Homo sapiens: one gene and its partners. The protein of the gene in region 1 purifies or fractionates together with the protein of each later gene. This does not show direct contact. Each region holds a gene or a part of one and is shown in the gene's direction. Other genes may lie near its edges.

What was found.
Region 2: the proteins of SIGLEC12 (region 1) and PLAA purify together in Homo sapiens (affinity purification with mass spectrometry; 2 studies listed by BioGRID and IntAct, with this or other methods). This does not show direct contact.
Region 3: the proteins of SIGLEC12 (region 1) and UFSP2 purify together in Homo sapiens (affinity purification with mass spectrometry; 2 studies listed by BioGRID and IntAct, with this or other methods). This does not show direct contact.
Region 4: the proteins of SIGLEC12 (region 1) and TEX261 purify together in Homo sapiens (affinity purification with mass spectrometry; 2 studies listed by BioGRID and IntAct, with this or other methods). This does not show direct contact.

Annotation. Positions count from the first base shown.
Region 1 is NC_000019.10:51,498,782-51,506,377, reverse strand, and holds the start of SIGLEC12 (sialic acid-binding Ig-like lectin 12 isoform a precursor), read left to right. Parts: upstream 1-4,577; 5' UTR 4,578-4,644; coding exon 4,645-5,071; intron 5,072-5,984; exon of another isoform or gene 5,985-6,004; coding exon of another isoform or gene 6,005-6,077; coding exon 6,078-6,458; intron 6,459-6,661; coding exon 6,662-6,940; intron 6,941-7,160; coding exon 7,161-7,208; intron 7,209-7,596. UniProt on the Homo sapiens protein: Putative adhesion molecule that mediates sialic-acid dependent binding to cells. The sialic acid recognition site may be masked by cis interactions with sialic acids on the same cell surface.
Region 2 is NC_000009.12:26,916,233-26,923,253, reverse strand, and holds part of PLAA (phospholipase A-2-activating protein), read left to right. Parts: coding exon 1-76; intron 77-2,869; coding exon 2,870-3,027; intron 3,028-3,724; coding exon 3,725-3,944; intron 3,945-6,005; coding exon of another isoform or gene 6,006-6,088; coding exon 6,089-6,157; intron 6,158-6,548; coding exon of another isoform or gene 6,549-6,637; exon of another isoform or gene 6,638-7,021. UniProt on the Homo sapiens protein: Plays a role in protein ubiquitination, sorting and degradation through its association with VCP. Involved in ubiquitin-mediated membrane proteins trafficking to late endosomes in an ESCRT-dependent manner, and hence plays a role in synaptic vesicle recycling.
Region 3 is NC_000004.12:185,401,946-185,408,966, reverse strand, and holds part of UFSP2 (ufm1-specific protease 2), read left to right. Parts: exon of another isoform or gene 1-531; coding exon 532-696; intron 697-906; coding exon 907-1,031; intron 1,032-3,007; exon of another isoform or gene 3,008-3,110; coding exon 3,111-3,187; intron 3,188-5,348; coding exon 5,349-5,473; intron 5,474-7,021. UniProt on the Homo sapiens protein: Thiol-dependent isopeptidase that specifically cleaves UFM1, a ubiquitin-like modifier protein, from conjugated proteins, such as CD274/PD-L1, CYB5R3, DDRGK1, MRE11, RPL26/uL24, TRIP4 and RPL26/uL24.
Region 4 is NC_000002.12:70,991,872-70,999,832, reverse strand, and holds the start of TEX261 (protein TEX261), read left to right. Parts: upstream 1-4,959; 5' UTR 4,960-5,075; coding exon 5,076-5,145; intron 5,146-6,057; coding exon 6,058-6,137; intron 6,138-7,849; coding exon 7,850-7,961.

The DNA of each region.
Region 1 (7,596 bases):
GTTCAGGCATTGGGGAAATATTCCCATTCCAAAAAGGAGAAATTGCCCCAAAGAAAGTGGCAACAGGCTCCATGTAAATCCAAATTCCTGCAGGCAGACATTAAACCTTAGAGCTTAATAATAATCTTTGACTTTGTGTCCCACATCCTGGGCACATTGGTGCAAGGGGTGAGCTCCCAAGGCCGTGGGCAGTTCTGCCTGTGGCTTTGACAGGTGTAGGCCACGTGGCTGCTCTCATAGGTTGGAGATGAGTGCCTGTAGCTTTTCCATGTTGAGGTTGCAAGCTGCTGATGACTCTACACTTCCCTATCACTCCCCTAAGACTCTTCCACACACACACCCCTCAGCCCCACAGCAAAGGCAGGGGGAGATTCACAACACAGGCTTTGAGGCCTGTTTTCTTCCATCTCCTGAAAACACCACCTACCTCATCTTTCCTTTTCCCCAATAGTTTTGAGCTACGTTCTTTTGGATACATGTTATGGTCACATGGGTGAAAATTCAAAATGCATAGCAGAGTCTGTCCCCAGAATCGCCCAGCGTCCATCTAGGCTGCCCTGGGCCTTGGTTTGCTCACCTGGAGGATCTCAGAGGTGCTCCAATATCAATAGTGAGACTGCCCACACCCTCCTCTAGGGCTGTGTGTGATTCCACTGCATGGATGGACTCTGATTGTGTAGCATCTCCCAGTGGAAAATCATGGCACTAATTTTATCGTACTGCAGAAACACTGTAATGAATAATCATAAATCTACTTCCACAAGCAATATCTGAGTGTATAGCATAGTTCCTAAAAGCAAAATATAGCAGTGTTATACGTTCTTTCTAATTTTAATAAAATGAAGTTGTTCTCAACTAAAAGTGGGCAAGTTTACATTCCCAACAGTGAGCTGAGAAGGTGTGTATGGCCCTGCACTTCAGCCTGTATCAGTGTCTGTTCCATCCACCAGTCTCTTTCTGTATCATTCCTCCTTGTCTTGATCACTGTCTTTCTGACCCTCTGTCTCTTTCTCTACAGCATCCACCACCTTGGGGAATGGCTCAGCCCTTCCAGTCCTGGAAAGCCAGTCCCTGTATGTGGTCTGTGCTGTTGACAGCAATCCCCCTGCCAGGCTGAGCTGGACCTGGGGGAGCCCAACCCTGAGCCTCTCACAGCCCTTGAATCCTGGGCTGCTGGAACTGCCTCAAGTGTATCTGAGGGACGAAGGGGAATTCACCTGCAGAGCTCAGAACCCTCCAGGAGTGATGCTGCAGGCGGTCAAGGGGGGCTGGAGCCCCAGCCTGGTCTTCCTGTCCTTTTGTGTCATCTTCATCGTGTGAGCATTGACCCTGGAGAGGAAGGGAGAGCCCTGGGGGAGGGTGGCCTGGGAGCAGAATCCCTGAAGCCGGAGCTGGAAGGACCTGGCTGAGTCAGGAGTATGAAGCAAGGGAGAGAATGAGCATGGGTGCATGGTGAGAATTTCATGAGTGCCCTTGTTTGTGGGGCCACATGTCTGTGACAAACCTCGGGCCCCATTGTCCAGGAAAAAAGAGCCTCTGTTTTCAATGTTGGGGTCTCTGGGACTACAGCCTGCTTGAATTCCTCCCCTGAAAATGGGCTTTTCTTTTCTACCACTTGGCCAGGCTGCAAATTATCCAAACTTTTACACTCTGCTTCCCTTTTAAATACAATTTCCAGCTTTCAGTGATTTCTTTCTTTGCTCACACATGAGCATATGCTGTTAGAAGCAACCAGGCCATGTCTTCAATGCTTTGCTTCTTAGACATTTCTTCCACGAGATACTGAAAATCTTCACTCTTGTGCTCAAAGCTCCACAGATTCCTAGGGCAGGGGCACAATGCAGTGAAGTTCTTTGCTAAGGCATAACAAAATGGACCATCGCTCTGGTTTCCAATAAGTTCCTCATTTCCGTCTGAGACCTCTTCAGCTTGGCCTTCACTGTCCATATCACGACCAATATTTCAGTCATAACTATTCAACCAGTCTCTAGGAAGTTTCAAACTTTCCTTCATCTTTCTGTCTTTTTGTGAGCTCTCCACACTCTTCCAACTTTTGCCTGTTAACCAGTTCCAAAGTTGTTTTCAAATTTTCAGGTGTCTTTGTAGCAATGCCCCACTCCTCTGTACCAATTTTCTGTATTAGTTCATTCTTCCATTGATATAAAGAAATACCTGTGACTGGGTAACTTATAAAGACAAGAGGAATAATCGGCTCGTGGTTCTGCAGGCTGTACAGGAAGCAGGATGTTGACATCTGCTTGGCTTCTGGGGAGTTCCTCAGGAAACTTACAATCATGGCAAAAAACAAAGGGGAAGCCAGCATGTCACATGGCCAGAGTAGCAGGATAGAGCAAATGGGGAGATGCTGCACACAGACAACAAGCAGATCTTGTTAGAACTCACCCACTCTCACAAGAACAGCTCCAAGAAGATGGTGCTAAGCCATTCATGAGAAATCCACCCCCGTGATCCAACCACCTCCCACTACAACCCACCTTCAATATTGAGGCCTATAATTCGGCATGAGATTTGGTGGGGACACAGATCCAAACCATATCAGGCTCTAATCCTATTAGGCTAATCCAAACCACCTATCTAAACACCATGCCTTCTAATACTATCACATGGGGGTTCAAAGGTCAACAAATGAATTTTGAGGAGAGACATGTAGCTGTAGCACTTGTCACTCTGGTCCTTAATATCTTCCTCTCCAAATTATGGAAGTGGGTCTAGAGGGCCCATCAGCTCCTCTGAGTCATATGTGGTTCAAACGTTCTTCCTTTGCAGATTCTCTGTGGCTTCCTCATGTCTCTCCTTCCCATTTTTCTGCTTTTCTTTGCCAACTGGGGACTGTGGGAAAGAGATGGGCCGTGGTCGAGCCCTTCTTCCCATTGAGATGCTGCAACTGTCCTTACGGGAAGAAAGTGACACGGCAAGGATGGGGGCCCAGGAGCAGATTGGTCTGCAGGATGAGATACAAGCTGCAAATGCAGGAATTAGTGGTGTCAGGGAGAGGAGCAGCTATGCATGCCCCAATCCTGCACATTTCCTTTTCAATTATCACAGCCAACTGACTCTACTCCAGGTTATGGGCAATTGGGGACAACATGGGGATGGGAAGATCCATGGAGCTGAGTAAAATAAAACAGATTGTGGTTTTTATGTAAAAATAGTCTTTAGAAAAACCTATGCAAAGCCATAGTATTGAAGGCAGTGCACTCAGATGATAAAACTACATAGAAAAGCAAGGAGACCATTATCATTAAAGTGAGGCTGGGGCATCTTCAGGAGGAACTGCATGTGGCCTATAGGAAGGGGAAACACAGGGCTGAATAAATGAATGCAATTTCTTTCTTCATCTCATGGGAGAAATTTGGCAATTATCTTGTGATGTTCTATTTCTTGAACAGTGATAATTTGGTGAAAATCACTGAGTCATTTTTTTAGGTGGCACTTTTATTTACTTGTATTACATTTCCCCAAAAATCATTGTTTCAAGAAAAGCTGACATGGGTCTAAGGAGGGCGAATCTTGCAGGATTTTCCCCACCTTCCTCCCAGTACATAGCATACAGTTTCAAAAACTCTTCTGCTGAATTCAGGTGCATTTCTTCTCCCATGAAATCCTGTCCATCATTGAGCGTGGACACGCCAGGGCTGGTGTCCTCGCTCCACGTCTCCTGTTCACCTGAAACCCTGGGAGCAGAGCCTGCAGGAACAAAGGGCCAGCAGACCCCTCATGCTCTGGAGTAAGGAGGACTTGTGAGAGAGCAGTGGTGAAGGATCCCATCCTGAACCCAGAGAGCCATGGCCGAGAGAGAAACGCCTGCCCCTTTAGAAATCTGTCCCTTCCCATCCAACATTCCTCCCTTCCAGACCTCACTGTACAACAGTCACAGCCTTAGCTTCTCAGGCCTCCTGTGAACTGGGCTCTTCTCTGTGTCTTTGGTGTGTATCAACACACGGAATCCTCACCTCCACGACCCCGTGTCTCTCTGCTCAGTCCTCCCGAGACTGATTCCCCAACATAGGAGAGAGCGACCACACCCTGCCTGGTACCCCCACTGAAGCTCCTGCCATGGAGAGCTCAGATATCAGGAGCCTCAGTGTCTCCCCACTACACAGTGACTCTTTGGGGACAGTGTCTAGCTCTGCTGTGTTGAACTCCACCTCACGGCCGCTGAGGGAGGAAGGAGAGGTTGCCTGCTCATCCCACCTGCACCCCCATCTCTTATATCCTAGTGTCACCTCTGACCTACAGAGAGACATCCACAGCCTGTACTTCATAGGTCTGGCCACATGGGACTCATTTTCACCTTATGGAAAATATCACCCAAGGGGAAGGGCACTGAGAGGGAGGCAGTGGGCGGGGTGGGCCCTGCATGGGGTTGGAATCTGGGTGAGTCTTTCATCCTCTCTGGCCTCAGGGTCCCCAGGAGTGGACGGGGTAGTGGACGGTGGATCTTCCAGGGGTGACCCGGCCCTGACAGTGTCTGTGTGTGAAGTTCCTCCTGTGAGGTCACCGTTCAGAACCCACCCCCAACTTCCTGTGCGGCTTCCTCGAAATCTTGAGTTCTCAGTTCCTGAGAGAAGAACCCTGAGGAACAGACTTACCTCAGCAACCCTGGCACCTCCAACCCGACACATGCTACTGCTGCTGCTACTGCTGCCACCCCTGCTCTGTGGGAGAGTGGGGGCTAAGGAACAGAAGGATTACCTGCTGACAATGCAGAAGTCCGTGACGGTGCAGGAGGGCCTGTGTGTCTCTGTGCTTTGCTCCTTCTCCTACCCCCAAAATGGCTGGACTGCCTCCGATCCAGTTCATGGCTACTGGTTCCGGGCAGGGGACCATGTAAGCCGGAACATTCCAGTGGCCACAAACAACCCAGCTCGAGCAGTGCAGGAGGAGACTCGGGACCGATTCCACCTCCTTGGGGACCCACAGAACAAGGATTGTACCCTGAGCATCAGAGACACCAGAGAGAGTGATGCAGGGACATACGTCTTTTGTGTAGAGAGAGGAAATATGAAATGGAATTATAAATATGACCAGCTCTCTGTGAATGTGACAGGTAAGGCACGGGCTCCAAGAGAGGCCAAAGGCAAATGTGATGAGGGCTTTAGGGCACGGCTGAGACGGGACACATGTCCTGGGAGGGGGCCGGGGGTGATGGACTCAGGGGAGGAGCTGGACCAGAGCCTGAGCTTCCCCAGGACCGCACCTTGGATGCCCCTCCTGATCCTGCAAGCCCCTCCCCTCACCAGCCCTGACCCACAGGCCTGACATCCTCATCCTGCCTCTGACGCTGGCACTGTGGCATGTGGGGCCTTATGACTCCTTGTTTTGGGGCCTGTCCTAGGCATGGCCGGGGTTTAGCACCATCCCAGGCCTCTCCCCACCAGATGCCAGAAGCACCCACCCCACCCATGCAGCGAGACAATTATCTCCACACATTGTCAAACGTCCTGGGGGGTTAAGTCCTCCCCAGTTGAGAGCCTTAGGTCTACACAACCCCGTGACTCTCTCAGGCCAGGCCAGGGAGGAAGCACTTCCTGGCGCAAACCAAGGGCAGCAGAGGCACCTGAGCCTGGACAGGGAGACTCAGCACACGGCCCCTCCATCTCTCATGCCCCGAGGTCCTCGGAGATCCACATTTAGATGCTCAAAAGACAGGAGGGACCTCCACGATGGTCCAGAGGCCGGGAGGGCAGGACCTACGTGTCTGGTGCAGGCCCTGGTGCTTCAGGGAAGCCCGGAGGTAGGAGGCGGGACACGGTCTCTTCTCCTCCCTGGGTGGGTCTCTAGGGTCTCTGAGCTTTAGGGTTTCCTTCACTCTGTGCAGAGGGAATGAGTTCCTATAGCATGTGGGTTTGCAGTTTCTCTTCCATGCAGGGCTGAGGTCTCCAGCTCCTCTCCAGCCCCCTGTGGGTCCCACAGCCCTGCCCCTCCTCTCCCTCCCCCTTCTCTGCTCACACAGGGAGCCCAGGAAGCCTCTGCCTCAGAGATGCTGCTGCCCCTGCTATGGGCAAATGAAGAGAGGGACAGTGGGGGCTGGGCTGACCCTCGTTTCTCCACAGCGTCCCAGGACCTACTGTCAAGATACAGGCTGGAGGTGCCAGAGTCGGTGACTGTGCAGGAGGGTCTGTGTGTCTCTGTGCCCTGCAGTGTCCTTTACCCCCATTACAACTGGACTGCCTCTAGCCCTGTTTATGGATCCTGGTTCAAGGAAGGGGCCGATATACCATGGGATATTCCAGTGGCCACAAACACCCCAAGTGGAAAAGTGCAAGAGGATACCCACGGTCGATTCCTCCTCCTTGGGGACCCACAGACCAACAACTGCTCCCTGAGCATCAGAGATGCCAGGAAGGGGGATTCAGGGAAGTACTACTTCCAGGTGGAGAGAGGAAGCAGGAAATGGAACTACATATATGACAAGCTCTCTGTGCATGTGACAGGTAAATCTCTGGCTCTAGGACCAGCCAGAGGGGAAGGCCCGAGGGCCGCAGGGTAGGGCTGAGGTGGGACCCCCATCCTGGGAGGGAGTTGGAGGTGAAGCATATCTGGCTCAGGGGAGGAGTAAGACCAGAGCCTGAGCCTCCTCAGCACCACACTTCAGACCCCAACACCCTCATTTTGCCTGTCTCCCTTTCATCACCAGCCCTGACTCACATGCCCACCTTCTCCATCCCGGGGACCCTGGAGTCTGGCCACCCCAGGAACCTGACCTGCTCTGTGCCCTGGGCCTGTGAACAGGGGACGCCCCCCACGATCACCTGGATGGGGGCCTCCGTGTCCTCCCTGGACCCCACTATCACTCGCTCCTCGATGCTCAGCCTCATCCCACAGCCCCAGGACCATGGCACCAGCCTCACCTGTCAGGTGACCTTGCCTGGGGCCGGCGTGACCATGACCAGGGCTGTCCGACTCAACATATCCTGTGAGTTCTGGGCCAGGACGTCTGGGTCTTTGATCGGGATTCCTTGAGGCCAGTTGGATGTGGGACCCAGACTCAAGGATCTGGGTCCTGGAATCTTGGCTGGGAGTTGGGGGTCAGGAGGATGCTGGCTCCACCTTCCCCATTTATGGGGCTCCTGGGGAGACAGGGTCAGTGTCCCCAGTCCTCAAAGTGATGGGAACTCCGTGTCTTTCTGTTCCAGATCCTCCTCAGAACTTGACCATGACTGTCTTCCAAGGAGATGGCACAGGTAAGATGGAGTCCTCTCCCTGGGGCTGGAGGAGCAGAGCCTTCAACTCAGGGGAGAGCCAGGACTCACCCTGGTGACCTGAGACCCTTTTGTGGGTGAGCCCCGGCCCCCCCCTCCCTCAGCCTCAGCCTTTTGGCCACCTGAGCACCTTCTCATCACCCCTTCACTCCCCTTGAACTCCTCCACACACACACCTATTTTGGCCCCACAGCAAGGGTAGAGGGACATTCACACAGCAGCTCAAGGATTTGAGGACTCTTATCTTCCAGCTCCTGAATATTGCCTCATCCTTTTATTTTCACCAATAGTTCTGAGGTATATTCTTTTGGATACATACTATAGTCACATGGGCAAAAATTTATAATGCACAGCAGAGTCTGTCCCCAGA
Region 2 (7,021 bases), on another chromosome or scaffold:
ATTGATTCTAAAACTGGCGATTTAGGGGACATCAATGCTGAGCAGCTTCCTGGGAGGGAACATCTTAATGAACCTGGTAAGTATTTTATTGTACCTAGTAGAAAAAATTCACCATATTTGGCTTTTGGAACAATTAGAAGAAAAATAAATGTTGTTTTGCTTGTGTTTTTCATTGCTAGATGCTGATTTTTGAGGATTTTTACTATTACATATAATCACTATGAGAAACCATGTTCTTGCCTCTGTCTCACAGAAGACTTTGAATTAAGCTTCTCATAAACAGGAATTAAAAAATAAATCTCCCAACACTTAGATCATTTACAGTAGACACTCAAAAGGCACTCATTTAATACTTTTTGGTTGATTGGATTCTCTGAGAGGGGTTACAAACTGAATATTAAAATGAGTTTAAATACGAAATTAGCCAGGTGTGATGGCATGCGCTTGTAGTCCCAGCTACTCAGGAGGCTGAGGTGGGAGGATGGTTTGAGCCCAGAAGGTTGAGGCTGCGGTGAGCCGACACCACACCATTGCATTCCAGCCTGGGTGACAGAGTGTGACTCTGTCTCAAAAAAAAAAAAAAATGAGTTAAAATCAAGCATTGTCTGTGTAATGAGTTGGGAATCATTCGAGTTTGAAATCAGAAGACCGTAGTCATCTCAAATGAAATCTTGGGTTGGATGTATCTCTTGATTGCATTATTATACCAGTGCTTCTCAAAGCTTGATTCATGGACCTCTGGGGATTCTGAGATCCTTTCAGGATGTCCATGAGGTCAAAACTAATTTTTGTAATACTAGATATTATTTGAATGTTGTACATTGTATTAATGTTTGCACTTATGGTGCAAAAACAATGGTGGGTAAAACCACTGGTTCACTAGTATGTAAATCAAGCCAGGGGCTTTAAACCATTCTGGTAAGTTACTATGTTCTACTTGCATGCAGTTGTAGTTTAAAAAAAAAAAACAATAAAAACAAAAAAAAACAGTTTGCCATTAAGCATGTCCTTGATGAGGTATTAATATTAAGAATTATCAGTTTTATTACATTTTGACACATCTTTTTAAATATTCCGGGTGAGAAAACCTAAAGTAGACATAAAGTAAGTCAAAATACTGTGGTGTCTCAAAGAAAAGAACATGCGCAGTCATTTGAGTTGCAGGCTAAACTACCAGTTTTTTCATGGAGTGCTATTTTTATTTGAAAGAATGACTACGGTTATTCAGGCTTTGGTATTTGGCAGACGTTTTTTGAAAATGAACAAATTGAGCATGTTCCGTCAAGGAAAATAACTGATAATATATGTTGCCAAAGATAAAATTCAAGTGTTTGAGTGAAAATTGAAATGTAGGAAAAATGTATCTCCACCAGGAACTTAGTAGCTTCCCATTTGTATTGATACTAGTGGTAATAACATTAACAAATGCCATTTTTTAATATTGAATAATAAACTGTATGAATATGCAGAAGATCTGCGTAAGTTATTGAACCATTATTTTCCATATGACTAGTATCTGATACCATCTCAGACATGGGTAAAAGATCCATTCAAAGTACAAGATAGACCAGTGGATTTTAGTATAATAGAGCATGAAAAATTCATTGATGTGGTTTCAGATTGTACACTGTAGCGTTTAAAAAACTAGTATTTCTGGCCTATCCACATTTTCTGAAAAGACTTGTCTTCTCTTTTTCAACTACCTACGTGTGTTAGGCTGGATTTTCTTTTTGTAGTCAACCAAAATAACAAATTGAAACAGATTAAGATGGGGTAAGAGGGGAGATTAAAGTATGATGGACTAGGCCAGAACTGGCATATATCACATCCACCCAGATTCCACTGACCATTACTCAGTAATGTGACATCATGTGACTGCCCAATGCAAGGGGACTAGATAATGTAGTCTCTGGCTAGACAACTACAGCTGTATCTAATGGAAGAAGAGCATGATTCTTCGGAGGATGGATAGCTGTCTCCGCCACTGAAGGCCTTGTTGAGAACATGACATTTGTGTAAAGTTGTTAAAGAGGGAAAGGAGCAAATACTGCCAATATCTGTGTGAAGAGCATCATAGGCAGAATAAACAGCTAATACAAAGGCTCTGTGGCTGAAGTTGGGAGATGAGGGGACAGGGGGAATAGTAGAAAGTAAGGTCATGTAGGATAGTGTGGACAATTTATATTTGGTCTTGTACACTACTCAAGAGTTTAGGCTTTTACCAAGTGAGATGAAAAGCATTGATGGGTTTCAAGCAGAAGAGTGTCAGGACCTACTTAAACTTTTGAAAAAATTCCTGAAGTTGCTGGGTGGAATATACACTGTCGGGGGCCAAGAGTACAGGAAAGAGGCCGTTGAATCAACCCAACTGAGAAATGATGGTGGCTTGGACCAAGGGATGATGATGGAGATATTAAGGAGACAGTTTTCTAGATATATTTTAAAGAATGAGCTGATAGCAGTAGCTGAAGGGGGTGCTGAGAAGTAGCCGAAGGAGCGATGGGGTTGAGAGAAAGGTATCAGGCTTTTCTACTTTTCAGTTTGAGCCACTGGATTAATGGAGAGCCATTTACGGAATGAAATGTGTTAGGAAGATATATTCACTAATAAAACTTGTTTTATTTTTGATGGGCCAGTTGCTTCCTAGTAGAATCACGTTTTGTTAACCTTCCTTTGATTAATAATATTTCCTTTTAACTGTTATTTTCTTTTGGCCACATTTTTAAATCTTTTATTTGATACAATTTTATTTTGAAACAAAATCCATATTCTCTTATGTGTAAATTTTAATGTTAAGAATTTTCTATTTAAATGTTTTTCAATTTTACATTGCCATTCTACCTTTGATTCTTAAAATTTTTATTTTAAGGTACTAGAGAAGGACAGACTCGTCTAATCAGAGATGGGGAGAAAGTCGAAGCCTATCAGTGGAGTGTTAGTGAAGGGAGGTGGATAAAAATTGGTGATGTTGTTGGCTCATCTGGTGCTAATCAGCAAACATCTGGAAAAGTTTTATATGAAGGGAAAGTATGTCGACTTCTACTTTCTAATTACTATTGTCTTAAATATTAGGCAAATTAAAGGTTTCCTTTGCCCCATAGTGATAAAATTTCCTTTGTTTTGACATTTAAAAATCCATTACTGTGGGAAACTAATCTTTTTTTTCCCTGTCTTGAAATAGATATTTTAAAAGTATCTTTCCATGTAGTGAGAGCTGCATTTGAGAGACAAATTAGCAATTGTCTGTCATGTAGTAGTTTCTATACAAAAGCTGTTCCCAGCCATTTTGGATTGGGAGCTTCTGTGCCACCTTTCATCAAATGCCTCATGCCTGGCTATATTTAACTTGACAAGACATGAGAGACCCTGCAGGGCAGTGCTTAAAATGCCAGCACGTTTTGGTGAGTAGGGCACAGTAACAGCTGATAATTTTGATCTTGATATCAAACCAGTTGGAAACTCTGCTTTGGCTCTAGAGTTAATATGTAGTTGTAATCCATCCTTCATCCTCACCCCCATCCCCTAATGAAATACTAATTTTGCATCACATGCAGATGGGGGCTGTTAATCTTTATCTGCCAAAAACGAAGATTTTAGCACTGCACTTTGGAGAAAGTTTAAGTACTGTAATTATTAAAGAACACATCTGTGTTATGTTGTATATGTCATTAATATATGTGAACAGATAATAAGCATGTATCTCCTTTTTATATTCCTACTTTAGGAATTTGATTATGTTTTCTCAATTGATGTCAATGAAGGTGGACCATCATATAAATTGCCATATAATACCAGTGATGACCCTTGGTTAACTGCATACAACTTCTTACAGAAGAATGATTTGAATCCTATGTTTCTGGATCAAGTAGCTAAATTTATTATTGATAACACAAAAGGTCAAATGTTGGGACTTGGGAATCCCAGCTTTTCAGATCCATTTACAGGTAAGTTAGTGTTTATATTGAGTCTTATGTAGTTCCATTAGTGTTGATTGATTTTTTTGATGTTTTCAAATAGTCATGTGATTAGCTTTTTCAATAAATACCAATATCTACAGCAGGGTTTTACTTCACATTCATATGTTTAAGCCTCAAATGATGAAGTAATTCTGTATTTTACAGAAATAATAGTAAATTGTTGTCTTTCAAAAATACAATCATACTATAATGGAATTTCAGTTATTTGAAACAAAAATAAACTTGTAAGTTCTTTTATATAGTGTTTCTTTTAAAAAATTATATTTTGGCAAAATTTAGTAAATCTTTTTTTCACATGAGGCTAAATTGGTCAGTCATGCATCAAATCTAAAAGTGAACCCTATGGGTAGTTTTAGTTTATATGTGATGTGTATTCTACACGTTCATTTTAAGTTAATTGTTTGTAACATCGTATACATCGTATCTCATGTTATAAATGCAGTTAGGTGCTCATACCAGTCTGTAAATTGTAATCCTAATGGTACTAGTCCAAATTCTGGCCCCTAGGAAGTGGAATCTAATCCTAGTAATATTAACGTGAGTTCTGGAGACTGGTGTAGGAGGAAATAAAATGCCTCCTCTAAATAACATTTTGAGATAGGCACTTTACTGTTAATGTTTTCCTCTCATCATTTCTGACTCAACATTTTTCAGGTGCTAGTGCTCTTCCTTGTTTTACGAGGACTTTGTATTATATTCCTGTCTCAAATCCTTATGTAGATCCACCTTTTCTTCCCTGACAGCTACTCCACATTCCCAAATTATCTCCTCATTCTACTTCAAAATTTCATTGCCCATTCATAAAATAAAACTAATGTTACCTGCATGTTGATTTAAATAGAATTATCAGGCCAGGTGTGGTGGCTGACGCCTGTAATCCCAGCACTTTGGGAGGCCAAGGCAGGCAGATCACAAGGTCAGGAGTTCAAGACCAGTCTGGCCAACATAGCGAAACCCTGTCTCTACTAAAAAAAAAAAAAAAAAAAAATACAAAAAATTAGCCAGGTGTGATGGATGTGCGCCTGTAATCCCAGCTCCTTGGAAAACTGAGGCAGGAGAATCACGTGAACCTGGGAGGCAGAGGTGGCAGCGAGCCAAGATCGCACCATTGCACTCCAACCTGGGCGATAGTGCAAGATTCCGTCTGAAAAAAATCAAAAAATTTTAAAAAAAATTATCAAAGTAACTTACTACTGAATTACAGATGATCTGATCCTCCAAATACTTGCACTTAAAAAGAAAATAATTGTTTAGTATGTGGATATTTTTGTTGTTGGAATTTCAGACTGTAGTTCAAGAGTGAACACAGATTGTAGTACTGTGTAAGCTATTTTGCATGTGGGATACAGGAAAGGAATTAAAGCAGCTGACTTTGTCTGGAAATCTAGGAAGCACTTGGCTTGTTTTGCCCTTCTGAGACTCTTAACTTTTTCAGCATCCTTACTGTTTTTTGTTTTTTGTTTTTTGTTTTTTTTGTGGACAACCTGATTATTTCCCTAGAGGTACTAACAAAACATAGGCACATACGCCACACATTCGTAAATGTATAAATGGAAGTCTCTTTCCTTTGTAGTTTTCATCCCTTTTCTAATTCTCTTCTCCAGTAGGTTGTAAGCTTCAGTGGATATAAGCAATTTTGTTCCCTTCTGGATCCCCAGCCCTGAGTCCATTGTTTGACACATGAATTAATGAACCTAGAGCTCTAAATGATTAACATTTAGTGCCTGTGGTTTTGATAACAATAACAACAGCAGGAACTCTTGTGAATTTGTATAGGAACAGGGACAGGAATTGATTGTATGTTTATATATTTAGGTCAGATATTACCTGCAATTCTCTTTTGATATTTGAATTAAGTTTTAATATTTAAGTGCTGGGGCTAAGGTATAATAAAGCATTAAAGTTAAGAAAACAAAACTTGGAGAATCATTAAAATTTCAGTTTTTTCCCAGTTATAAGACTTCTGACTATAGTTTCTGTCATTCTATCATGTGAAAGTTTTGCTCTTCTGTTTTTCTCCAAATGTAGGTTCTTCTAAAACAAGCATTGTGCTGTTTGAAAAATTCAGAACTTTGGTGCACTTCTGCCTTTTCTTTATTTTGCATGCACAGGTGGTGGTCGGTATGTTCCGGGCTCTTCGGGATCTTCTAACACACTACCCACAGCAGATCCTTTTACAGGTGGGATGTAGTTTTGATTCATGTATCTTTCTTCACTAAATGTATAGCATCTTGCATCACATGGCTTTACATCTTGGAGATGTCATCCAGTAATTGGTAATTCCCTTATCTGCATTTCCAATTTTGATGGATTTCCTTTTCTTTAACTTCTGATTTTTGCTTTTTCCTGGAGTGGTTGTGTAGATTCCCTCGTGACTTTTAAATAGCATATTATTAGAATTCATTGTTTTCTCCAGGGGTCCTTCCCACCAGGAGAGCAGTATAGTTAAGAATATAGGTTTTAGAGTCAGACAAACCTTGGTTCAAAATTGGGCTCTACCACTTACTTGCTATGAGAAGTTGGCAAGTTACCTAACCTGTCTGAGCCTATTTTTTTTATCTGTGAAATTAGATAATAGGGGAACCCACCAACCAAGACACAGCATGAGTGCTATCACTGGCGAGATGCTACCAATCACGAGCAGAGAAGGAGCCATGTGAGCCCTGATATTGGATGGAGCAGTACAATCAAGAAGTCTCCCCAGGCATATTTTGACTTAACATGGAAGGAGACATTCCACCCAACTACCCAGGAGTAGTCTTCCTAATCTAAGTTATTAATGTCCTTCTTGAAGCCCTTGAAGTGTTGGTGTATCTCTTCAAAATGAATTTATTTACCAAGGTATGCATGCCTCAGCATCAACACTACTGGAAAAAGTGCCAGAGTTGGACTTTAAGGCAGCTGAAGAAGTCTCTATTTTCAGAATGGCTTTTGATATCTTGTATAATGCTGTTGTTGGATCTTCAGACAGAGTTCCTCGACAGTATACTCAGTTTGGGAAGAGATCATAGCGTTTAGGTATCCACTGGCCTTGCAGACTGGTA
Region 3 (7,021 bases), on another chromosome or scaffold:
AAAGTATATCAAGTCATGATATACTTTGAAAAATAAAAACATAAAGAGGACAGAGATGACAGGTGAGGCAGGGGGTGGGGTAGTGAGAGAATGAGTGGGCCGTTTGTAGACTGGATGGTCAAGGAAGACCTTTGACATCTAAATGGAAACCTGAGTGAAGTAAGAGTGCAAGCTGTACAATTAATTTGGGAAAAGAGAGTTCCAGGCCAAGAGAACCATGAGGCTCCAAGGTCATATTGCCCCTGGTATATGGGAACCGAAAGTAGAGGGAGCAATAGGGAAAAGTTTAGGAGATGAAATTGGAGAGGAGGCCAGAAGGTAGGTCCTGCTGGGCCCTGTGGTAAGGACTTTGAACCTCAAATAAAAAGCCAAGAAGGTATAATGTTAAACCATAGATCTGTGAAGGCATTTTTATAAGGAACTAAAGTAACAGTCTAACTCTAAGAACATTAAACATAATTCGGGAGCATATATAGAATATGTACTTCTATCCTAAGTTAATATTTTACTGTGTTTCTTCTCTGTATATAGATTTATGTGGTCCAGGGCATATATGGCTATCATCATTATATGCAGGATCGCATAGATGACAATGGCTGGGGCTGTGCTTATCGATCTCTGCAGACTATCTGCTCTTGGTTCAAACATCAGGGATACACAGAGAGGTCCATTCCAACACACAGAGAAATTCAGCAGGTACAGAACATACCGTTTTAAATTATAATCAACTGTATGTTTCATTAGCCCTTAATATACCATTGATAATTTTTGTTACCTCATGGTGCAGACTTATTTCTGTTTTGAAGAAAAAAAAATTCTTGTACTGGTAATCAGGGAAAATGCCCTAAACATCGTTTTTAATAGCTGTCTTGTGTATGGATGTTTTATATTTTTAAATACATCAAGGCTCTAGTCGATGCCGGGGACAAACCAGCAACATTTGTCGGATCGCGGCAATGGATTGGATCTATTGAGGTGCAGCTGGTACTAAACCAATTGATCGGTATAACGTCAAAAATCCTGTTTGTCAGGTAAGCACACTTTAAGAAATTAGATAAATCATTTCAAAGTGACAGTCTGTCATTTTAATTAAAATAATAGAAAAAATGGTATCTTCCCTTATTTCTTTTTATTCCTTTTCCTTCTTCCTTATTACTCATTGCTTTATAAATCTCATTTTTTAATCTTAATTTTTTTTCATTTTTTTTTGGAAGGCTCTGATTTTATGAATAAACTTTGTGATGTAATGTATACTTGTATTATTTAGGCCTAATTTTAGCCTAGAAGAGGAAAACTTAAAAATATATTAACGTTGAGTAAAGTCATAAAAATTATATTAACAGTTTCTTTATGCTCCAATCTTTTAAAAAGTCTTAAAAGGCAAAACTCAAATGTTGAACTATGACTGACCTTTTTGTTTACCTCCTGCTCTTTTTCTTTCTAAAACGTTAATAATCTAGTAATGTGTTCAAATAATGTATTCATTTTGTCTTTTCCAATGATCTTAACCATAATTCTAATATTAAAATGAGAAAATATAAATTAATTATTTTCTATGACCATAACTAGCTGACTCCTGATTGTATGAGCTTATGTTTTAAAATACATTTTCTAGCCAGGTGCAGTGGCTCACGCCTGTAATCGTAGCACTTTGGGAGGCCGAGGTGGGTGGATCCCCTGAGGTCAGGAGTTTGAGACCAGCCTGGCCAGCAGAGCAAAACCCTGTCTCTACTAAAAATACAAAAAAAATTAGCTGGGTATGGTGGCGCATGCCTGTAATCCCAGCTACTTGGGAGGCTGAGGCAGGAGAATCGCTTGAACCCAGGAGGTGGAGGTTGCAGTGAGCCAAGATCATGCCACTGCACTCCAGCACAGGCAACAAAGCGAGACTCCCTTTCAAAAAAAAAAAACAGAAAAATACATTTTCTAAAAAAAAAAAAAAAAAAAAAGAAAAGCCAAAAAACAAATAAAATACATTTTCTATTGTTAATTACAGTAACATCGTCCTCATTGTATCTTTTATGTGTTAAAGATGTAATTTTATCCTTTCCTCAGTGGTTATGGAAATCAGTGGTAAAAAAATGACAGACTGGCTGGGCACAGTGGCTCACGCCTGTAATCCCAGCACTTTGGGAGGCCAAGGTGGGTGGATCACCTGAGGTTGGCAGTTTGACACCAGCCTGGCCAACATGGTGAAACCCTGTCTCTACTAAAAATATAAAAATGAGCCGGGCATGGTGGCACACGTCTGTAATCCCAGCTACTCAGGAGGCTGAGGAAGGAGAATCGCTTGAACCTGAGAGGCGGAGGTTGCAGTGAGCTGAGATCGCGCCACTCCACTCCAGCCTGGGCAACAGAGCGAGCCTCCATCTCAAAAAATAATAATAATATAAAACAATGACAGACTTAAGTAGTGAAGAACTTTTTTTAAAAGTTACAGTTTTGGTACATTAAAACATACGTTCCTCATTAAGCAAGAGCTAAGGTTTAGCACCACCGGGCACCTTCCCCCAAAAAATACCTCCCTTCATTATCCCATCTATCTTTCTCTTTTCAAAAGTAAAAATTCTGAGATTCCCTAAAAATAGTATGTTGCACTTGAAAACATTTTGCAGTTTTCACATTGATTTCACAGACATGTATTTTAGGCCTAGACTCTCCTCTGTTATGTAGACAGGTCAGCGTTTTGGGTCCCAATTTAAAGATGAGGAAATACAGACTAAGAAGTCTACCAGCAAGAAGGCAAGAACCCAGGACTTAACACTCATTCTTCTGATTAATCCATCCATAAGAACTCCCTGAGCACCAAGGTGATGTTTTAACTTCATGTTAAAAACCCAGGCCTCCTTTATACAGTTCAAGAAGCAGAAAATCAAGGTCTTTTAGCGTCTTATCTAGCACACTTGGTGGCCTTAAGTATTTTGAGTTTATGTTGCTTTAAATTGCACAGTTTAATTGCTCTCAGTTCCCTAACACTTAATTTTTTTACATTTATATATTTTTTCAGTAACACCCGAAAAAACAAGAAAGTAGGAAACATTGTCTCCTAGCTCATTATTTGACCGTAGTGTTGGAAGTAGTTCATCTGATAGAAAATGGTTTCTTTCTAGCCAAGGTTCAGAAATTGCCTCTCAAGGACGGGAACTGGCTAATCATTTCCAAAGTGAAGGAACTCCAGTTATGATCGGTAAGCTGTTTCAGACACTGTTTTTGGTAGAGTGAGTAATATGCAAAACTTATCATTGATATAAATATTTAATGTTGCATAAAATCAGTCATTTAAAAAATTTTGAAATTAACTTTTACACCATATGTATGGATCTCTGGATATTGAAAAAAATTTCTAAGGTGGCTTAAAGGTTACAAAAAAGATTATAATAACCAGAAGAAGTAAAGGCTGAGAAATGGTAGCTATGTTCAAACATTTAAAGAGCTGAGAACAGTATTAAAAAGAGGAAACGGTCACTCAGCTGAGCTTCGTAAGTCATGACTCTGTCATAACTGGGCTGGCTTTGTGAGATTTTGCAATTACTTACCTCTGTGGATTTTATTTGTAAAATAAGAAGATTGGATTAGCTGATCTAAAGATGCTTAATTCTTTGAAGAACAAGACCTGTCCTGTGATGACAGAAGGCAAGGTGAGACTAGTGTGTAAGAAATGGAGGTAGAAGCTGGGCATAGTGGCTCACACCTGTAATCCTAGCACTTCGGGAGGCTGAGGCAGGAGGATAGCTTGCATCCAGGAATTCAAGACCAGCATGGGCCAGACCGCGTCTCTACCAAAAAAAAAAAAACACACAAATTAGCTGGCATGGTAGTGTGAGCCTATAGTGCCAGCTATTCAGGAGACTGAGGTGGGAGGATTGCTTGAGCCCAGGAGGCTGCAGTGAGCCAAGAGATCCACTGCTCTCCAGCCTGGGTTACAAAAGTGAGACACTGTCTCAAAAGAAAAAAAAAAAAAAAAGAAATGGAGGTAGGCTGATGTCAGCAAAATATCAGAAAGAACTTAATGAGTAGGCCGGGCCCAGTAGCTCACGCCTGACTCCTGATTGTATGAGCTTATGTTTTAAAATACATTTTCTAGCCAGGCACAGTGGCTCATGCCTGTAATCCAGCACTTTGGGAGGCTGAGGCGGGCGGATCACTTGAGGCCAAGAGTTCGAGACCAGCCTGGCCAACATGGCAAAACACTGTCTCTACTAAAAATACAAAATTTAGCTGGGTGTGGTGGCACACACCTGTAATCCCAACTACTTGGGATGCTGAAACAGGAGAATCGCTTGAGCTGTGAGGTGGAGGTTGCAGTGAGCCGGGATTGCCCACTGTACTCCAGCCTGGGTAGCAGAGCAAGACTCTGTCTCAAAAAAAAAGACTGGGCACAGTGGCTCACGCCTGTAATCCCAGCACTTTGGGAGGCCAAGGTGGGTCGATCACGAGGTCAGGAGATCGAGACCATCCTGGCTAACAGTGAAACCCCGTCTCTACTAAAAAAAAATACAAAAAATTCGCTGGGTGTGCTGGTGTGCGCCTGTAGTCTCAGCTACTCAGGAGGCTGAGGCAGGAGAATTGCTTGAACCTGGAAGGCAGAGGTTGCAGTGAGCCGAGGTCACGCTATCGCACTCCAGCCTGGGTGACGTGAGACTCTAGCTCAAAAAAAAAAAAAAAAAAAAAAACTTAATGAATGGAGTGCTATATCACTGGAGGTACTCAGAGGCAGCAGGACCATCTGCTGAGAGAGGCACTACAGCAGATTGTTACTCTGTTGGGAGGAGTTTATGGCCCTTTCTAAATCCATTTTAGGTAATTATATGGATGTGAATGTAGAATATAAATTGTATGTGATTATAGATATGATTGTATCTTTTGTGTTAAAGATGTAATTTTATCCTTTCAGAGTATATCTGACATTGTGTCTTTTATAGTGTAGGGTAGTCCATTTTAATGCTATTTTAGATCAGTTAATAAGCAAAGTAATGTTGTTTTTTTTTGTTTTTTTTTTTGAGAGTCTTGCTGTGTCGCCCAGGCTGGAGTGCGGTGGCATGATCTCGGCTCAGTGCAAGCTCCGTCTCCCAGGTTCATGCCATTCTCCTGCCTCAGCAGGAGCTGGGACTACAGGCGCCTGCCACCAAGCCCAGCTATTTTTTTTGTATTTTTTTAGTAGAGACAGGGTTTCACTGCATTAGCCAGGATGGTCTCCATCTCCTGACCTCGTGATCCACCCACCTCCCAAAGTGCTGGGATTACAGGTGTGAGCCACCACGCCCGGCCGTAATCTGTCTATTTAAATTGAATAGGCATTTGACATTTGTTTATGCCTTCATTCGTATTTCCTATTTTTTCTTCTATAGGGGGAGGAGTTTTGGCCCACACAATACTAGGAGTTGCATGGAATGAGATTACAGGGCAGATAAAGTTTCTGATTCTAGATCCACATTATACCGGTGCTGAAGACCTGCAAGTTATTTTGGAAAAGGTAAGTATCCATTTAACACAAATTGAGACAAAAGGCAAAGAAGCTAGAAATGAAGGATCACAAACTGGCTGGTAACAGAAAGACAATAAGCTGAGGGCAGAGATCTCCCTGTGTGGAGGCCTTCTGAGGCTGTTGTAAGTAGCCGTCTCTGTATAGGGAATGTGCAAGAACAAAGCACATTGCAAAAGACAAAATTTAGGTTTATAGAAACTTTCTCAGCTATTAAAATTAATAATAGGACACACACTCATAAATATATTCCTTTGGAGATTTTAGAGCTTTCATAAACAAATGTATCAAAGTTTATCAATGTCTTAAAATAGATGAGCAGAATATATAAACTTTTAAAATTTTAGAATTAACCAAAAGATAGCTAAGCAGTATGCTAGACATTATGGAGGCTTGACTAATTTTAATTCATTTACATATAACCTAATCTCATTCTATAAAGGGTTTGAAGTTGATACATATTTAAGAGTATTCTTACTTACAATAGCAGATAAAGGAGGTAAAAATTTGTTAATTCATAGGCAACTAATTCTCACATATGAAAACTCAGTACCAAGTCTTTAGGAGAAAGTATTGTAAAACATAATTAACTTGAATTTTAAGTAACATTTATATTCGCTGCCAAATACATTGAAATTGCAGAGAATACATAACCACCTTTTAAACTATAAACTAAAGATAAAATGTTTTAATATGTTAAAGAGTTTTAAGCCAGGCGTGGTGGCTCACACCTGTAATCCCAGCACTTTGGGAGGCTGAGGTGGGCAGATCACCTGAGATCAGGAATTCGAGACCAGCCTGGCCAACATGGTGAAACCCCATCTCTACTAAAAATGCAAAAATAAGCCAGGTGTGGTGGTGGGCGCCTATAATCTTGGCTATTTGGGAGGCTGAGGCAGGGGAATCACTTGAACCCGGGAGGCAGAGGTTGCAGTGAGCTGAGATGGCGCCATTGCACCCCAGCCTGGGCAACAGGAGTGAAATTCCAGCTCAAAAAAAAGTTTTTAATGTGTGTAGTCCAACTCTGTTATATCCTCAGTTTACTGAAGTCTTTTGTTTATGATAAGGGTATAAACACTAATAGGATAGAAATGTGTTGTTACAGTTTTAAGTGTTTTTTTTTCCTTTTCTCTTTCACAGCATTTGGAATTTGAAGTCTATAAAAGGTTTTTTGACTGGTGCATGTATCTTACTGAATATAGTAGCAATATTCTTGTTCTGTAGCAAGGTGTTCATTCCATTCAGTATTTATTAAAGTACCTAACAAGTGCCAGGCACTGTCCTAAGCACTAGTATTACACGAGGTTTTTCGGGAGCTAAAACCTTTAGGGTAGGACAGAGAAGGAGAGTGCAAAAAGGACTCTCGAGAAAAAAAAAATGGTATCTCAGGTGCTTCTACGAGGCTGGTGCTGTGGTGGCCCCTGCCTTGTAGAAACAGTGAAAGCCGCACTGCAGGTAGATCAGTGCGTCCAGAGCTAGGCGAAGAGGTGAGGCTGGAAGGACACACCAAGCTCAGTCAGAAAGGGTGGTCTTTGTGAA
Region 4 (7,961 bases), on another chromosome or scaffold:
CCACCATGCCCGGCCACCTGTCAATATTTAAATCAACAAACTGGTCAGTCACCTTTGAACCTCCAAACCCTTTCACTCTTGAAATGAGTCCCTTGAATTGAGTGTGGGGACCTGCTATCCTTCCTTCCCTCCTTCAGGCAAGGCCTGGGTTTGCTCCCCTTGTAACTCCTTCCCCAAACACAGCCTAAGGATCCTCCCTGAGCCCCGCCCTGTCCTGTTGGGTCAGGTGGACCTGACTTCTCACCACTCTCAGGAAATGGTGGCCTCTCTCTTCCTGCCATCGGAGGAAATTTGAATCCTCAGCCTTACCTCTCTCAGGCTACTTTTGGCTTTAAAACTGTGGGAAGTGAAAGTGCCCAGCCCTGGAAAAACAAGGCTGGTTCAAAGGTGAAAGCACTTAACCTTTTGGGGCCTCCAGTTTCCCTTATCTACAATTCTGGAGAGGGATGGGGGATATTTTTATAGTTTCCTCCTTCCCTGGGAAGATGTTTAGGGAAAAAAAAATACCAATTGAGACTTTACTGGTTGGGTGTGGTGTCTCATGCTTGTAATCCCAGCACTTTGGGAGGCTGAGGCAGGTGGATCACTTGAGGCCAGCCTGGCCATCATGACAAAACTCCATCTCTACAAAAATATAAAAATTATCTGGGCATGGTGGTGAATGCCTGTAATACCAGCTGCTTGGGAGGCTGAGGCAGGAGAATTGCTTGAACCCGGGAAGCGGAGGTTGCAGTGAGCTGAGATTGTGCCACTGCACTCCAGCCTGGGCAACAGAGCAAGACTCCATGTCAAATAAGTAAATAAATGAGAGAGACAGAGAGAGAGAGAGAGAGTGAGAGAGAGATACTTTACTGTGCCGTTACTCACTGATGCTTCCGTGTCTCCAATACAAACTCCTCAATAGAAAAGATCTGGACATGAAGCTCCCCTATTGGAACAATCAGGGATGACCAAGTCCCATGACCTAAGGTTAGCAAACTTACCAGTAAGGCACAACTCAATGGTTTTTCCTCACATAGGGACTGGGTAACAACAGGAAATTGGAGACATCCTAGCAGGCCCATCATATTATGAACATTTTAATTGTAAACTTCATTTATGAATAGGTAACACCTTTCCATATCTTTACATAGTTCAATATTTTAAGGATATAAAAAGACATACAGTGGGAATGCTGTTTCCTACTCTGAAACCCCACCCCTTCTCTTCCTAGGAAGCAAGCAATATTACTGTTTTCTAACGTATCCTTCCAGAGATATTTTATAGAAAGAAATGTGTAGCCTGGGTGACGTGGCTCATGCCTGTATTACCAAAGTACTACTTTGGGAGGCTGTGGCAGGAGGATTGCTTGAGCCCAGGAGTTCAAGACCAGCCTGGACAGCATAATGAGACCTCATCTGTACAAAAAATAAAAATAAAAAAATCAGCCAGGTGTTATGGCATGCACTTGTAGTCCCAGCTACTTGAGAGGCTGAAGTGGGAGGATGTCTTGAGCCCTGTGGGTTGAGGGTGCAGTGAGCCATGATCTTGTCACTGTGCTCCAGCCTGGGTGACAGAGTGAGACCCTGTCCCTCCCTGCAAAAAATGTGTATATAGATTCTTTTCCCCATTCTTTTGCTTTTTTTCAAAAATAGTCCTATATAGGTACATAAAGAACACCCTCATTGGCTTTTAGGGCTAAATATACTTAACCAGTTTCCTATCAATGAACACTTAGGTTGTTTTCAGTCTCTTACAGTGCTGCAATGAAAAGCCTTGTAAATAAGCATATGGTGAGGCCGGGTGCAGTGGCTCATAACTGTAATCCCAGTACTTTGGGAGGCCAAGGTGTGTGGGTTACTTGAGGTCAGGAGTTTGAGACCAGCCTCGCCAACATGGCGAAATCCCATCTCTACAAAAATACAAAAATTAGCTGGATGTGGTGGTGGGCACCTGTAATCCCAACTGCTCAGGAGGCTGGGGCAGGAGAATCGGTTGAACCCAGGAGGCAGAGGTTGCAGTGAGCTGAAATCGTGCCACTGCACTCCAGCCTGGGCAACAGAACAAGACTCCATCTCAAAAAAAAAAAAAAAAAGGATATAGCCCTTTAAGGTCTCACTCTGTCACCCAGGCTGGAGTGCAGTGGTGTGATCCTGGTTCACTGCAACCTTGAACTCCCAGGCTCAAGCGATCTCCCACCTCAGACTCCTGAGTAGCCAGGACTACCGGCACCATTGCACCTGGATAACTTCTAAATTTTTTGTAGAGATGGGGTCTCACTTTGTTGTCTAGGTCAATCTTGAACTCCTAGGCTCAAGTAATTCTCCTGCCTAGGCCTCCCAAAGTGCTAGGATTATAGGCGTGAGCCACCCCACCATGCCCCATATACATATCTCTCAGGTATTCTTAACTGGGGGTCCAGGGACCCCTTAGAAGTCAGCAGGTATAGAATTTAGGGAGACAATTTTAAGACGCCTGGAAACTTGGAAGGAGAAAAGTTTCTATTTTTATCTATAACTCTCTCATATGATTAATGATATCTTGAAATATCATTTACCCTCACTCCTACTTTGTCATTGTGGTAGGTAGCTATTAGATTTTGCAATAGGTCTGCTTATGTCATATATTAATAGAGAAGCACATAAATTACAGAATACATTTGGTTTTCTAAAAATAGTTTAATACTTGCATTTCTATATAATTGGTTTGCTTTGTAATCTTTTTTGTTTTATTTTTGTTTTTGTTTTTGTTTTGAGACGGAGTCTCCCTCTGTCCCCCAGGCTGGAGTGCAGTGACGCGATCTCGGCTCACTGCAAGCTCCGCCTCCCGGGTTCACGCCATTCTCCTGCCTCAGCCTCCTGAGTAGCTGGGACTACAGGCGCCCGCCACCATGCCCGGCTAATTTTTTTTTTTGTATTTTTTAGTGGAGACAGAGTTTCACCGTGTTAGCCAGGATGGTCTCAATCTCCTGACCTCGTGATCCTCCCGCCTCGGCCTCCCAAAGTGCTGGGATTACAGGCGTGAGCCACCGCGCCCGGCAACTGCAATTTTTTTTTTTTTTGAGACAAGTTTTCATTCTGTCATCCCAGCTGGAATGCAGTGGCCCAATCATAGCTCACTGCAGCCGCCATCTCCTGGACTCAAGTAATCCTCCTGCCTCAGCCCAGAGTAACTGCGACTACAGGTACGCACCACCATGCCTGGCCATTTTAAAATTTTTCTTTGCCCAGGCTGGTCTTGAACTCCTGGCCTCAAGTGATCCTCCTACCTCAGCCTCCCAAAGTACTGGGATTACAGGCATGAGCCACTGTGCCCAGCCTGCTTTGTAATCTTTTTTTTTTTTTTTTTCTTGAGACGGAGTCTCGCTCTGTCGCCCAGGCTGGAGTGCAGTGGCGCAATCTCGGCTCACTGCAACTTCTGCCTCCCGGGTTCACGCTCTTCTCCTGCCTCAGTTTCTTGAGTAGCTGGGACTACAGGCGCCCGCCACCAAGCCCGGCTAATTTTTTGTATTTTTAGTAGAGACTGGGTTTCACCGTGTTAGCCAGGATGGGCTTTGTAATCTTATGTATTTTGTTGGGGGGAGGGGGAAGCTATGCATAACATAAAATTGACCGTTTTAACCATTTTACAATTCTGTAACACTGTATACAATTCAGTGACATTAAGCACATTCACACTGTTGTGATGCCATCAGCACCATCCATCTTCCCAAACTGAAACCCTGTATCCATTAAAAAGTAACTCCCCATTCTTTGTCCCCCAGACCCTGGCAAGCACCATTTAACTTTCTGCCCATGATTTTGACTACTCTGGGTACCTCATATGAGGGGAATCATACAATGTGTGTCCTTCCCTATTTGGCTTATTTCACTTAGCATCATGCCTTCAAGGTTCATTGATGTTGTAGCATGTGTCAGAATTTCACTTCATTTTAAGGCTAGATAATATTCCATTGTATGTTTATAGCACTTTATGTCTATCTTTTCGTCAACCGATGGACATTTGGGTTGCTTCCCTCTTCTGACCATTGTGAATAATGCTATGAATATTGGTATACAAATGTCTCTGCTTTCTCAGTTCTTTTGGGTATATACCCAGAAGTAGAATTGCTAAATCATACGGTAATTGTTTTTTTTAGGAATACGTATTTTTATGCAGGAAAAATATGATTCTGAAATAAGCCTACTAGACTCTTGTTCTACATACTTTATTTTGCATGCCTGTCTCCGCCACTAGATGGGAGACTTGTTGACAAGGACTAACCGGTTCCAGGTGCCCCTCAGGAACCCTCCCAGAGGTGTAGTAAATGCATCCAGCGCCTAGCGGACGCCCTGCGTGCCCGGCAAGGGGTGAGGTGCAGGCGATACAAAGGTGCAGAATGTACCCCAAAAGAACAGCCTAGAGGGGAATTAGGCCGGAGGATGACCGATTAAAATCACCCCAACTCCTGATTGTGCCGCTTCCTAGGTGCATGACCCAGGGCAACTTCCTTTGGCCCCGGCTTCCCCGTCTATAAAATGATTTACATTATCTGCTCAAATTTCCGACAAGAACACACCTCGCCTTTATCACAGAGCGTGGCACATATTAGGAATTCAATAATTTTGTCCCTATCACCTGCGATAGCAAGAGACAGACTTGTCCGCAACCTGCCGGGAGGCAGGTTCTGGGGAGGTTGCTGGGGCGCGGTCGGGCGGCCCTGTCCGGCCCTGGACCACCTCCAGGCTGGTACGGGAGTGCACAGGGAGGGACTGGAGGCTGCACTCCGAGCCCCAGTATGGGCGCTTGGTCGTCTCCGCCCCTGGGCACCGTCCCGCCTCCCTCTGGCTGCAGCGGTCTGCATTCATTCCCCTCAGTGGAGCGGGGGATCCTGGCGGGGCAGCGGCGGTTGGCCCTCCTCTCCGGCGGGCGGCGCTAGCGCGAGCCTGGCCCCGGGCAGCGCTAGGGCCGGGCTCCTCTCGGCGGCGGCGCACCGTCGTCCTGTCGTCCGCGGGGCGGGGACGCGGCGGCGGCGGCGGCGGTGGCGGCTGTGTGTCGCCGGAGCCGAAGCGCGCAGGCCCGTCCCGGTGGCCGGGGAGCGGGCGGGTGGGGGCGCCATGTGGTTCATGTACCTGCTGAGCTGGCTGTCGCTCTTCATCCAGGTGGCCTTCATCACGCTGGCTGTCGGTGAGACTGCACGACCCCGGCCCGCGCGGGCTCCCGCCCCGGCATCGGTGCTCGTTGGGGGTCGCATCGCGGGGGTTTCGGAGCCACTCGGGGGACCACTGCCCGGCGCTCCCGGCCTTCGCCGCCCCAACCCCTTCCCGCCTGATCCTGCCCCTCCTGTCGAGCCTGGCAGCCCGGCCTGACCGTGGCTCCTTCCAGGTGTCACAGAGTCCGCTCCGGCACTGCCCGAGAAAGGGTGACTCGAGTGCCGCCCCCGCGTCTGCGGACCGCTAACCGCTGCGGCTCCCACTCTTCGCGGGCCTGCCGCGCGGAACTTTTCCCCAACGCCTACCGCCGCCTTTGCGCCTCTGGCCCTTCATGCTCCCTGCTCTCTCCACCTTTGACACTTCTCCTCTGGCTGGTTCCCATTCGGCCTCAGTTGAGATGTCATCTTTTCCGGGAAGTCCACAGGGGTTGATGGTCCAGCAGTGCCCTGTCCTTTCCCTAAAGTAGCATTTCTCACACTAAACTCGTCTGTCTCTCCCTACTGTTCCCCTTCCCTTTCCCAAGCTGGGTCAGGGAAGGACCCTTGTCTGTCTTTTTCAGCTGTATTCTCAGCCCAGGGACCTGGCTCATGCCAAGTGCCCAGCAGGTGTTTATTGAATACGTGAAATTCCGTTTTCTGAGCCAGAGGTTATCATTGTACTGTGGCATCAAATGCAGACTTTCGTTGATTTTTATGAGATTTGTCCTTAGTTGCCCTAAGAAAGTTTTACTTCTCCAGACTTGGAAGGGCAACACATGGGATGTTTGGTTTGTTCTTGACCTTCTGGGGTCCATGAAGGGTGGATGGGGACTGGGCTGCAGAGAGAGGGGTGACCAGGATGGTGGGAGTGACCCTGGCTGATAGTCTCCCTGCCTCCCACCCTGCAGCGGCTGGACTCTATTACCTGGCAGAACTGATAGAAGAATACACAGTGGCCACCAGCAGGATCATAAAATACATGATCTGGGTAAGTGGCATCTTTCTCCAGGAGTCCTCCTCACTCTTTTGCCCTGCCTCAAAAGCAGGAAGTGGGGAGAGTTTGGCATGGATGATGAGGCCTGTGTCTCTGCTGTTTCCTGAGCATACACTCTTACCTCCTTGCCCTGAACGCTGTCTTTTGGGTCTGCACTCCTGGGCCCAGATCTTCCCTGGCCGCCTTCCCCAAGTGGCATTGTTTCACTGCAGGCCTTGTGCTCTAGTCCTTAAGGTGACAGCGAAGTGTACTTCTCTGTTGACAAGACCGTAGATTTGACTTTGCTTAGCTCTCTCCCGCTGTCTTTAGCCCTTTGCTCTGCTCACAGCATTTAAAACTTAGAGGAGCCATAAGACAGTTTTGCATATATGTTCATTGCCATCTTTCTAATCGGATCAAGTGATTTGTCCTAAGATCGGCACAGCTTCGCTGCCCTCGCCCTTCCCTGGTCTCATGGGAGGCTTCTCTTACTGAAGACACAGTCCTTGCCACTGATATCAAAGCCATAGGGGTGACTGCTGGTGGACAGACTTCCTTCAGCTGCAGGAAAGGCTGGGGGTAGGGGTGCCATTGGAGAGAAAGCGTCCACAGCCCCTCAAGTCGCCTGGTGTCAGCAGCCATGTGCACTCTGGGCATGGCTGAGGTTGGGAGTTCACAGTGGAGGCAAGACTATAGCCCTCAGCTCTGGTCCAGAGGCCCAGCTTGTGGGTGTTGGCACAGTAATTAGCCCTTCATTCAGCCAACTGTCATTTGCTAAGCACTGACAACTGTAGGTACTTATCAGTAGTGTTTTTCAAACTGTAGGCATGATTCATTATTTGGCTGTATAGTAGGTCACAATCAGCATTTTTTAAAAAAAGGAACATAAATAGAATTGAAATTTGAGCTTTGAATCATATATATGTATATATGTGTTGGGGTCACAGTGTAAAATGTTTTTCTTTTTCTTTTTTTTTTTTTGAGATGGAGTTTCGCTCTTATTACCCAGGCTGGAGTGCAGTGGCACAATCTCAGCTCACCGCAACCTCTGCCTCCTGGGTTCAAGCGATTCTCCTGCCTCAGCCTCCCGAGTAGCTGGGATTATAGGCATGTGCCACCATGCCTGGCTAATTTTGTATTTTTAGTAGAGATGGGGTTTCTCCATGTTGGTCAGGCTGGTCACAAACTCCCAACCTCAGGTGATCTGCCTGCCTTGGCCTCCCAAAGTGTTGGGATTCCAGGCGTGAGCCACCTCGCCTGGCAGATGTTTTTCTTACTGTGGGTTGCTGTCAAAAAGTTTGAGAAATGGGCTGGGTGCGGTGGCTCACACCTGTAATCCCAGCACTTTGGGAGGCCATCAGAAGTTTGAGACCAGCCTGGCCAACATGGCAAAACCCTGTCTCTACTAAAGACACAAAAATTAGCTGGGCGTGGTTGTGCATGCCTGTAGTCCCAACTACTCAGGAGGCTGAGGCAAGAGAATTGCTTGAATCCAGGAGATCGCGCCACTGCACTCCAGCCTGGATGACAGAGTGAGACTCCGTCTCAAAAAAAAAAAAAAAAATGTTGCCTTTTGGGAGCAGAGAACCTAGCTGGGGAGGCCAGACCTGTGAAATGAGGAGATTGAAGCATGAACCTAGTGCTGCCCAGAGCGGGCTGGGGGTTGGTGAGTCCAGGAACGTTGCCTGGAAGAAGCGCCCTGCACTGTCTGCCTCTGGTTGTTTCAGTTCTCCACCGCTGTACTGATTGGCCTCTACGTCTTTGAGCGCTTCCCCACCAGCATGATTGGAGTGGGCCTATTCACCAACCTCGTCTACTTTGGCCTCCTCCAGACCTTCC